2 separate regions of the Homo sapiens genome follow, and region 2 is linked to region 1. The links come from fine-mapping of genetic effects on gene expression. A gene starts in region 1. The other region holds a variant in brackets. All regions are shown on one strand. Distances are from middle to middle.

The links. PIP is the estimated chance that this variant, and not a neighbour inherited with it, causes the effect.
Region 2: its variant is the best candidate, but not a certain one, in a credible set for the expression of MCFD2 in pancreas (GTEx, PIP 0.86).

Annotation. Positions count from the first base shown.
Region 1 is chr2:46,913,302-46,918,790 of GRCh38, forward strand. It overlaps MCFD2 (multiple coagulation factor deficiency 2, ER cargo receptor complex subunit), which reads right to left and starts at 2,505. Exons shown (of 4, transcript NM_139279.6): 1 at 2,422-2,505. It also overlaps a transcript of TTC7A not described here. RefSeq lists a silencer at 2,492-2,571 and an enhancer at 2,575-3,549.
Region 2 is chr2:46,954,235-46,959,234 of GRCh38, forward strand. It overlaps TTC7A (tetratricopeptide repeat domain 7A), which reads left to right. Exons shown (of 20, transcript NM_020458.4): 3 at 2,605-2,773. Among named protein-coding and RNA genes, the nearest start is that of TTC7A, 16 kb to the left of the region's middle. RefSeq lists a silencer at 896-1,190 and an enhancer at 2,790-3,289. The variant G/A (reference allele first, on the strand shown) is at 2,099.

The DNA of each region.
Region 1 (5,489 bases):
CTTTGAGAGGCTGAGGCAAGTGAATCACTTGAGCCCAGGAGTTCAAGACCAGCCTGGACAACATGGTGAGACTCCCTCTCTAATTAGAAAAAGAGAGAGAGAGAGAGGAAGAAAGGAAAGAAGGCAGGCGAGGGAGGGAAAGATAGAAAACAGGGAATCTAACTGCCACCTAACAAATTAAACTGCTGACAGTCAAGAGAAAGCATAAGCAACTCCCTCTACCCAAATAACAGGTTGCATCATCCATGCTCTAACTACTTAGCTCAAGGCCATGGGCTAACAGCCTGAAGATAAGCCCCAGCTCACTGGCCTTCTTTAGGAAATTATAAAGGCCAGGCTGAAGAAAAACCCAACGGAGGAGAAATTTCTGCAAAGGGACTTCAGGGCACAACCCATACCTTGAGACAGCCCTCACAAGGCGCAGCCTCAGTCCTGGGAGGGCAGTGCTGGACCATCAGGAGCAGTGCGCCTCCCAGTGCCTTGGCTGTCACAGTGCTCCCCTCCTGCTCTGCCAGCCTCTTCCTGTACCACAGCCTCCGCTCCTACTGGTTCCATCTGTCCATCTCCAACTTCCTTCCAGGACAGGTTCAAATGTCACCTCAGGATTCTTCCAGCCAAGACCAATTGCTCTCTCATCCGACCTCAGTCTGTAGCCTCTCACACTCATTTGACCTGAACATACGATCACAGGTTGTTCTCCTTTTCCATTTTTCTCTTTTCCTCCCTCTCTGAGAGTCAGGACCCTCTCTCCTCTGGCTCTCATTTACCTTACTGATCTCTGCTGAGCTGACCTGGCTCATCGCTGAATCAGGGAAGTGAGTCTTGGCACCTAGGTGTATTGTTCCCTATCCCACAGCGGATCTAGCCTAAGCTGGAACTTCCTTTGGAGGCTTCCAGTGGTTTGACCTGGCCCAACCCTTTCTTCCTGGTGTGTCATCAGTCCTATCAGCACTAAGTTTGGGGCCAGCCTTCCTGCCAGCAGCTAGTAGCAGCTTCTCCCTCAAGGGGCCCTTGGTTAAGAATTCAAACCCAAAGCAGCCAAACTCACCAACATCCAGACATCCTGTACCCACAGCCAATGCCAAAGAAAAACTGACCAGTACTTTGTCACTTACCCCTGTCATGGTCCTGGAATGAAGGCAAGAAAATAACCAACTTCCTAAGCTAAAGAAACCTCTACACGGACTGAGGGTTGAGAATTGGTTCTGAAAAAGCAGGCATTTAATATTAATAACTTGATCTATTTGTTCATCTAGGGAGCCCAAGGAGCACCCATGCTGCATTTATACATTTAATGACCGTACTAACAGCACAAGGTACTGAAGATAGTACTATGACCTCGACAAACTCCTCTCACACAGATTACAACCTGGTAGAAAAGAGAGACCGGCAGGCAGACACCCATGGGGTACCACGAAATCCCCAACTGACACCTGAAATAACACATAAAGGATAAGAAGGATTATTTCAACCAAAGGACAGTGCCTCAGACATAGCGAACATACTGAAGGAACATGTAAGCCCAGAAGGAACTTGTTCTGATCTAAGAACCAAAAAAGATTCAGTATGGTTGAAGACACAGTACAGTCGAGACAAATGAATCTAAAGTTAAAGGAAGACAGGTCATGAAGGGCTTTGCAAGCCCCGTTCAAGAGCTTGGAAGAGCAATGAGAATCCACCAAAGGGTGATAAGGGAATGGGGGGACGCTTCTGGTCACATGATCAGATTTCTGTTTTAAGACCATGGCTGTAGCCTCTCTGTATAGAACAAACTACAGAGGATGAAGAAGAGATGCAGGGATCATCAGGAAGACACCGAGGTAGTCCAGAGAAGAAAAGGTGGCCTGAACTAGGTAGGGCAGGGGGATGGGACTGGAGAATGAACGTATCCAAGACAACTTTGCAAGGGATTCGATGTGGGTGGGTAAAGGAGTGAAGCAAGTGAGAATGATGCCCAATTCTGGCTTGGGCACCCGGGTGGATGGCCATGCCCAGAGAGGGAATACAACAGGAGATCAGCTTCCCCCGCCGGGCCCGACAGGACCTGTGGTCTCCCCGAGAGAGGGAACAAGGAGCAGAGGGAGAGTAAGGCTTCCGGCCCGCTGCTTTTGGGCCGGGCCAGGAGCAGTGTCCACCCGACACAGCTGGTCCCACAGGCCGATCCTCGGGCCCCTAGGGACCAGGGAAGGGGGCGGAGATCTGCCCAGTCGGCCCCGTCTGGCTCCAGAGCCCCCGGTGGGGCACAGGCTTCCGCCCCGGGAGACAGGCCGTGCTCCTAGCCGGTTAAGCGTCCCGAGACGGCCTGGGGGCCCAGCCCGCGCCCCCAGACTACTCCTGCCTCTCATCTTGAGCCCAAGCCTCCAGCCCACAGGAGAGGCGCCGGGATCCCGCCCGCTGCGGAGAGTGCGCTAGTTCACTCACCCTTACGGTCTCCGAAGCAGACGCGAAGCCCTCCAACGTGAGCCTCACCAGCCCCCGTCCCCAAAACGCTCTTCCTCGGCTTCGCCCCGCCCCCCCCCCCCCCCCGACCTGCCCTGCGCACGCGCGCTCCCTGCCGCCCGCCCATTGGCGCCGCCGGGCCCCTCCCGCTGGCGGCGGCGGGCTGTGAGGACGGCTCGCGTGAGTCCACGTGTAATCGGCCCGGGCCCAGCACTGGCGGGACTGACGCAGTTCTTCTACCTGCTTTCCCAAGGGCGACACTCGGCTCCACTCCAGTTGGGCCGCTGGACGCCCTAGGGGCCCGGCAGTTGCTAGGCAACGCCGGAAGCCCTCAGGAACGTAGTTCCACGGGCGACGTAGGATGGCGGATCCGGATGGGGCGGACCCCAAAGCTGGCTCCCAACTCCGCTCACCCCCTCCTATACAGGGCTCTTGGTTCAGGTCTCTTGGTTCGTCCTGCTGCAAGTTGGGAAGAAAGATAATAGGAATGCTAATTCCTTCTTGATGAAACGACCACAACACGCTGGAGCCGGCCTTGGACCCTACGTTTCAAGATTGGCCTGCTTCCAGCGTCTGCCAGCTCCACTGCACAAGCTGCGGCAGCCGCTGTCCCCGTTCGCTTCCACGGGAGTCCCAGCAAGACTATGCGACCCAGTTCAAATACCATCTTCCATGTACCGTTCGTGAAATCAGCAGCTTTTGACATTCAAGAGAGGACAGATTACTTAAAAACAGACTCATGAACAAATAGGGAAACGAATACATCATCCCTGTATCGAATTCATCCCTGTATAATCCTGCCCTTACACCTGTGCTCCTATACAAGATTAACATTCAGTAAGTATCCATTGACCTGATGGATAAATGAGTGTAGGACGGTCGTTTTGTTTTTTTGTTTTGTTTTGTTTTGTTTTGAGACGGAGTCTCGCTCTGTCCCAGGCTGGAGTGCAGTGGTGGGATCTCGGCTCACTGCAACCTCCGCCTCCCAGGTTCAAGCTCTTCTCCTACCTCAGCCTCCCGAGTAGCTGGGATTACAGGCGCGTGCCACCTTGCCCGGCTAATTTTTGTATTTTTAGTAGAGACGGGGTTTCACCGTGTTGGCCAGGCTGGTCTCTAACTGCTGACCTCTTGATCCTCCCGCCTCAGCCTCCCAAAGTGCTGGGATTACAGGCGTGAGCCACCACTCCCGGCAGGACGGTCGTTTTTTTTAAAGCCCTTCTCCCATTTCTGTCCATAAAGGTACATAATCGTTTTTCAAATGAGCCTGGGTCCGGACAGGAAAGACAAAGAAAGTGGCTAAGTAGTTAGATGCCTTGAAAGTTGCCTAACGCCACTGCCATTGACGGTCTCATTCCTTTTCCCACCTTCATCTGAGATTGAAATCTGCCACCCCATCCCAGAGAAAAATCCCATAATCCCTAATTTTTTTTTCTTTTTTTAAAGAAAAGAGTCTCCATGGTGCCCAGCTCGTCTCGAACTCCTGGGTTCAAGCAATCCTCCCACCACCTCCGCCTCCCAAAGTGCTGGGATTACAGGGGTGAGCCACCGCGCCGGGACAAAGAATCCCTAAGTTTTGAGGAAACCCTATTAATTCAAGACCCATTCTTCTTTCCTTACTCTGAACTTTGGATTAGTTTGATCTAGTTCCTCCTTCTACCCTGCATCTGCCATTCATCCATCTCTTCATCCATTCATCCACCCCTCCCTTTGTTCATTTATTCATTCAATAACATTTCTTGAATATCTTCTATGTACTAGGCGCTCTACTAGGAGCTACTAGAGATACAAATAAGACAAATGAAGTGTCAAGAAGCTGGTGTCTGGTAGATGGATAAAGTGTCCTCATTCTAGCCAGTGCTTTCATTTTTTTCCTATGGATGTTATCCTGTGTTATGTCTCTCTTGAATCTACAGTCACTCCCTCTCTACCAGATAATTCCCATCAACATATAAACTTGCTGTATTTTCTCCCCCACCATACCACTGAAACTGCAATCTCCATGCAAATCTAGTGGTCTCTTTGATCTCTTGTTTTTATTTTACTTGCCCTCTCAACACTGTTTTATCAAAGCCAACCACTCTCACTTAGAAACACTTTCTTCTCTTGTTTTCTGACACCACACACTCTGGGTCCTTCTGCTACCTCACTCATTATCCTTTCTTGGGCTTCTTAATTGGCTTCTCAATCTATAATTATCAAAGTGTCCAGGGTTCTGTTCTGAGTCACCTTCTCTATCCACCCTCCCTATGTGAGTTTACCTAGTCCTGTGCTTTAGATACCATTTATAAATAGATGACTCCAAAATATGTCTCTCTGACAATGACCTCTCTGTGTAATTCCTGGCTCCTGTAAATAACTGCCTACTTGATGTCTCCATATGAATGTCAGACTGGCATCTCAAACTTAATGTGTCCCCCCAAAATCTTGATTTTCACCCCCAAACCTGCACCTCTCTCAGTCTTGTGCATTTTAGTAAATGTCACTGGTACTCATTCTGTTGTTCAAGCTAAAATTCTACGAGCTGTTTTTGATTTATCTCATCCCTTTACCTTTAAATCCTTCAGCAAAGCCTGTTGATGCTATCAAAATGTATCCTGAGTCTTTGACTTCTTTCCACCTCCACTAAACCATCTAGTCCAGTAGTAGATGATGCTGCTGGACTACTTGAGAGAGAGCTTCCTAACTGACCGTCCTGCTTCCATTCTTGCCCTACTGTAGTCCATAAGTGAGAAGCCACCTTTGATTAAGCCATTTTATAGGTGGGTGTTCTGTAACTTGTAGCTGAACCCATTCCTAACAGGCAAATAATTTGGTACCAGAAGCAGGATGCTAAAAACAAGACACTAAAATATGGAATTGGCTAACTGGAGGTTAAGGTAGCCAGTGTTAAAAGACTGTATGTCAAACTGGAAAGTTGGTGACCCTTATAAGCCGTAGTGAAACTGTCACTTGCTGGACCTTGGATATAGGCCACATGCCAACCAATGCTATATTTTTGGAGAAATCTCACGAGCAATATGGAACATTAGTGAGTGTTGCCTTTTTTAGTA
Region 2 (5,000 bases), 41 kb after region 1:
ACAGGGACAGTGAGGCACAAAAGGAGTAGGTGATGCGCTGATCCACACAGTAGAGGGGATTGTTCCTCTGGTAAAGCGACCTCCCCCGTGGCACCCTCCCACTGGGCAAGGGGTTCCGTTCCCTGACTGTTGTACTGATAGACCAAGAATATTTCACATTCAAATGCATGGGCCCCACAGAGTGCAGTGGACTCTTAATGTTGCCAAGTAAGGACATTAAGAAGCAAAAAATAGCAGCAAAATGATACCATCTTCTGCTCTTACTGTGCTATAACAGAAAAACAGTTTAGCATTGAAAGGGCAAGGTAGATATCCTTTCAGAACTAAGAGCCTTTTTTTTTTTTTTTTTTTTGAGACAACGGAGTCTCGCTCTGTCACCCAGGCTGGAGTACAGTGGCACGATCTTGGCTCACTGCAACCTCCGCCTCCCGGGTTCAAGCGATTCTTCTGCCTCAGCCTCCCAAGTAGCTAGGATTACAGGCGCCCACCACCACGCCCGGATAATTTTTGTATTTTTAGTAGAGACGGGTTTTACCATGTTGTCCAGGCTGGTCTCAAATTCCTGATCTTAGGTGATCTGCCTGCCTCGACCTCCCAAAGTGCTGGGATTACAGGCGTGAGCCACCGTACCCGGCCGAGCATTTTTTTAAATAGTGTAAATGTGGCTTTATAAAACATGCCCTGCATTGTCTAATTTTTCCCCAGCTTGGTGGAAGCTCTGTTGTAAACTGCCACTGGTCCTCCAGGAACCGCCACTAGCCACACCCCATCAGCATGCCTGAAATGTCCTTCTCTGCCTCACTGCCCTTGTCTCCATGTGCAGGATAATGATAAATACGCATACCCTGTATTTATCTTGCTCTTTTCCAAAGAAAAGTTCAAAGCTCTTTTCTGGACTTTGCCCTATTAATGCCTTCAGCATCGCTGTGATAGGCAGTGAGGAGTAGGTGTTATTATCTCTCCCTCACCCACGAGGAAGACGCAGCCCGAGCAGGGAGGAAATGAGCCCGTGGCTTGAGACCAGTGCAGGGAACGCAGAGTCACTGCCCAGCTTGGAAGGACTGTGGGCCACATACCTCTGGGATGTGTCATCTGTGGCCCTGGCCCAGGGAGTGGATGGCCTATCTGGGAAGACTAGCAAATCCCCTCAAAAGATTCAGCTTTGGAGAGTTAATTAATAGAGAGAGCAGGTCAGGCGTGCAGAGGCTGAATGGGCCCATTGGTAGAGGCATTGGAGGAGTTCAGCTGAAGGGAGCTCCCTGGTAGTCAAGGAGGCTTTCAGGAGAAGGTGGGCCTGAGCAAGGCCCCAAAGGATAGAAGAGGACCTGGTTAGGCCAGGGGGAAGGGGACCTGAGGAAGCACAGGCAAAAGAGGAATGTGGATTTACAAAGGCCAGAAGGACCAGTTGGGAAGGTGAATTTGGCTTCCCCAGAGCCTGTCTGTGCCACGCTTCATTTCTCTTGGCTTCTGAGAGGGCAGTAGATGGTAAGGAGTGCTGGAGGCTTGCCCTGGGGTCACAGGGACCCCAGACTCTTACCTCCCTACAGGGAGACAGGGGTAGCACCTTCCTGCCAGTGACAAATGCCAGGTGTGGGATGAGAGCTGCATCTTCGGGGAGTTTTATGGACAGATTGGTGCCTGTGTGGCGGGAGCAGTGCCCAGGGCCTGGCCCATAGGCATTGTGAGCCAGCTGAGGACAGGATCAGAGGCAGGGGGCCAGAGCAAATGGCCTGCAGAGGCGGGAGGTTACAAGGAGAACTGGGGCCATGTCCAAGGTCAGAACTCACGTGCCAGGGTGGCACAGCCCAGGGCCAGCACAGCCTCCCTCAGGCAACAGCACAGGATCCCAAGCCACAGTAGGGGTGATCATGGCTGACAAGACCACTGCAGGCCCTAAGGGAGGCCCTGAGAGTTCCTCTGTGGGATGGAGATTGAGATGTAAGCAACTTTTGAAAAAGGAGGGGAAAGAAAACACGTTTAAATTCAGCCACTCTTGGCCTCCGTGATTCTGCACTTTGACCCATTTCTGATAGGAAGAGGATGGTGACGCAGCAGGCCCTCTCCTCCTCAATCTGTCCCTCTGCCACTGTAGGGGGAG[G/A]CATAAGCTTTAGGGTCCTCACAGGCTGTTTCTAAGGCCTTTCACCTAATTATGATTTGCATATACATGTACACAAGAGGACTCCCAAAATGAGAAGCCTGGGGCTCCACAAAACTTAACTCCATCTCTGACTCCCCACTTGTGTTTAGAATAAATGCCTGAGCTTCTGAGTGCCCCCTGGGGCTGCAGTCTTTGGGGGGATTCAGGAGAGGGAAGACAGGGCCTAGTCTGCAAGGTCTCTGGAGTCTTGCTGGGGGCATAAAACGCACACACATGAAACAATTAGGGACTCATAGGAGAATTTTATTGAGAACCACAATGTAGGCTGCAGACCATGGGTGAGAGCGGGGAGCTGTCGGCATGTGCTTGAGCATCAAAGAAGGCTTTCTGGAGGAGGAGGGGAGTTCTGAGCAAGGTCTGAGGCAAACAAGGTCCAGGTTCAGTGGGGGTGTTCACCCCAAGGTAACTTTGGGGCAGGCGCTGGTAACATGTCCTTGTCATTTCAGCCACAGTACATGTGTGAGGCCATGCTGATCCTGGGCAAACTGCATTACGTGGAGGGCTCATACCGAGATGCCATCAGCATGTACGCACGGGCCGGGATTGATGACATGTCCATGGAGAACAAGCCCCTGTATCAGATGCGGCTGCTGTCGGAGGCTTTTGTCATCAAAGGTAGCTGTGGGCACCAGCCTGGGCTCCCCTCCACTGTGTGCAGCTCGTTGCACTCTGACTCCCAGGGCCCTGCTGGGCTCGTGTCCAGATTCTTCACCCCTGGTAGTGCCCATGCCCTGGCACTGGTGTCTAAGGTGGATGCCGGTGGCAACCGGCCATGTTGACATTGCCTGGTGCCTGGGACGTTAGGAGACTCAGATTCTCGCCCTGGCTCTGTCAACAACAATTACCCTACTTTGTGTACCCTTGGGCAATCACCTCTTCACCTCCTTTGGCCTCAGTTTACTTGTTTGGAAGATACGGTTGTAATACCTGACCTCCCAGGGTTACCATGACCAAGAGTCATCAGCAGAATTGTGTAGCAAGGTTGAGAAAGGTTTACAAAGTATGACCTCTCACTGGCAGGCTGGCTCTGCTGACTGGCGCTGGCCCCAGAGCAGGTGCTGGATGCTGTAGGAGTCTGCCACTCCTCAGTTATTTGTCGGGCACCTGCTGTGAGTGGCCCAGGGAGCAGGGGCTGAGACCCAGTGATGAACAGGTCAGAACCAGTTCCTGGAGGAGCTCTTAGCCTTCCAGGGTCAAGGGGTGCTCTGGAGGGGATTTAGGGACATGGGTCAGTGATGTAGGAATTTTATGAGGGGGCTGTGGACAGCCCAGCTGGGGGAATCGTGCCATTTAACTGGACCCCAAATGTGTTCAATGTTAAAGTCATCCTACCCCAAACTTTGTGCTTCAGGCTCCTTCTTCCCTGGATCCCTGGCTGCGGGAGCCCCTCTGCCCAGCCTGCTGTCCGGAATCTTGGATGTTTGATCGTCTCCCTAGTGCAGCACAAACCAACCTCCAGAGAAAAGTCTAGAAAAGATGCCTGTGGCTCAGTGGGCATTTGGTGCCTGGCATTTGTAGACTATGTGACACACTCTATTATAGATAGGGACATTCTCACTATCTTGTGGGGAAACTGAGGCCCAGAGAGGATAACTTGCCCAAAGTTACCCAGATACATGGTGGAGCCAGGATGAGAACCTCCATGCTCTGACTCTGGCCTTGGAGTGTGAGTCCTCCAAGGCCCTGCAACACACACTCAGTTTCCCCTGTCTCCCCTGGGTCCCAGGAGGAGTGACTGTGACATCTGTGGAGGGCACACCCTCCTTGACTCTGGCTGGTGGGACTTCTGAGGGGGTTCGCCCACCCAAGATCCTTGGATCCCTTTTCTGTTGGGTCCACACCATGCCAGGAAACCTGGCAAGATGGTCACTGTGGGTGGTCTTCGTCCTTTGCTCTCTCATCCCCCGCTCTGCGCCTCTGGCACAGGCCAGTCTTGGGGGTGATCTGCATTTGGCATTTGGGTCTTTCGGGTCTCTTAGAAACCCCTTCAGCCATGGACGCCCTGAGCGGAACCCCCTTCCTCGGGCTTCCTTTCCGGGACTTTCTCCTGAGCCTGGCTCAGGATGGATTGCCCCCTGTCTCCTGCTCTCTCCTCTTTCCAGCATGCCTCCGGCTTCTTGGGGGAACACAGTCCCGGTGGTCAGAGGTCCTGCAGGGGAGGTAAGGAGACGGGCGCTGCCGGCGCGGGCTGCTTGGTCTCAGGCTGTGCTAGCTCCCGTTCCCCAGTGACTGCACATGGCCTCCCCTTTGCCTGCCTCCTCTCTGCCTGTCCTCCTCCCTGTCCTGCTGCAGTGACCACGCCTGCTGCCCGGCATGCTGAGGTTTGCCTGACCCTGTGTGTGCTTGAGACCATGCACGTGGCCACCAGGGTGTGCATGATGTTGATCTGCCTGGGTTTGGGGGATCCGGTGGGTCTTCCCATGCAGAGTAGAGGCCACACCCTTCGGGGGCTGAGGACGCTGGTCATTGGTCCTGACTCCGTCTGTGAGCATGAGGGTGGTGGCAGCAGGGGCCACAGAGTTCACAGAATGCTGATATTTATTCAGCCCCCCTCCATGCCAGGTAGGCCCTCGTTGAGCCCCCTCTGTAACCCTCTGAGCTGGTGTTCCCCTCATTCTATGTCGCGGATGAGGAGTTAAGGTTGGAAGAAGTGAGGTGACTCATGCGCGGATCTCACAGGAAGTGGCAGAGGCAGGATTTGAACCCAGGCAGCTGGAGCTTGTGATACTGTTGCTGAGAATCCTAGGATGAAAGGAATCAAGTGATCCAGGCCAAGCCCTCATGTTACAGTTGAGGAGACTGAGGCTGACAAAAAGGAAGCAGCTTACTCAGGACATCAGTT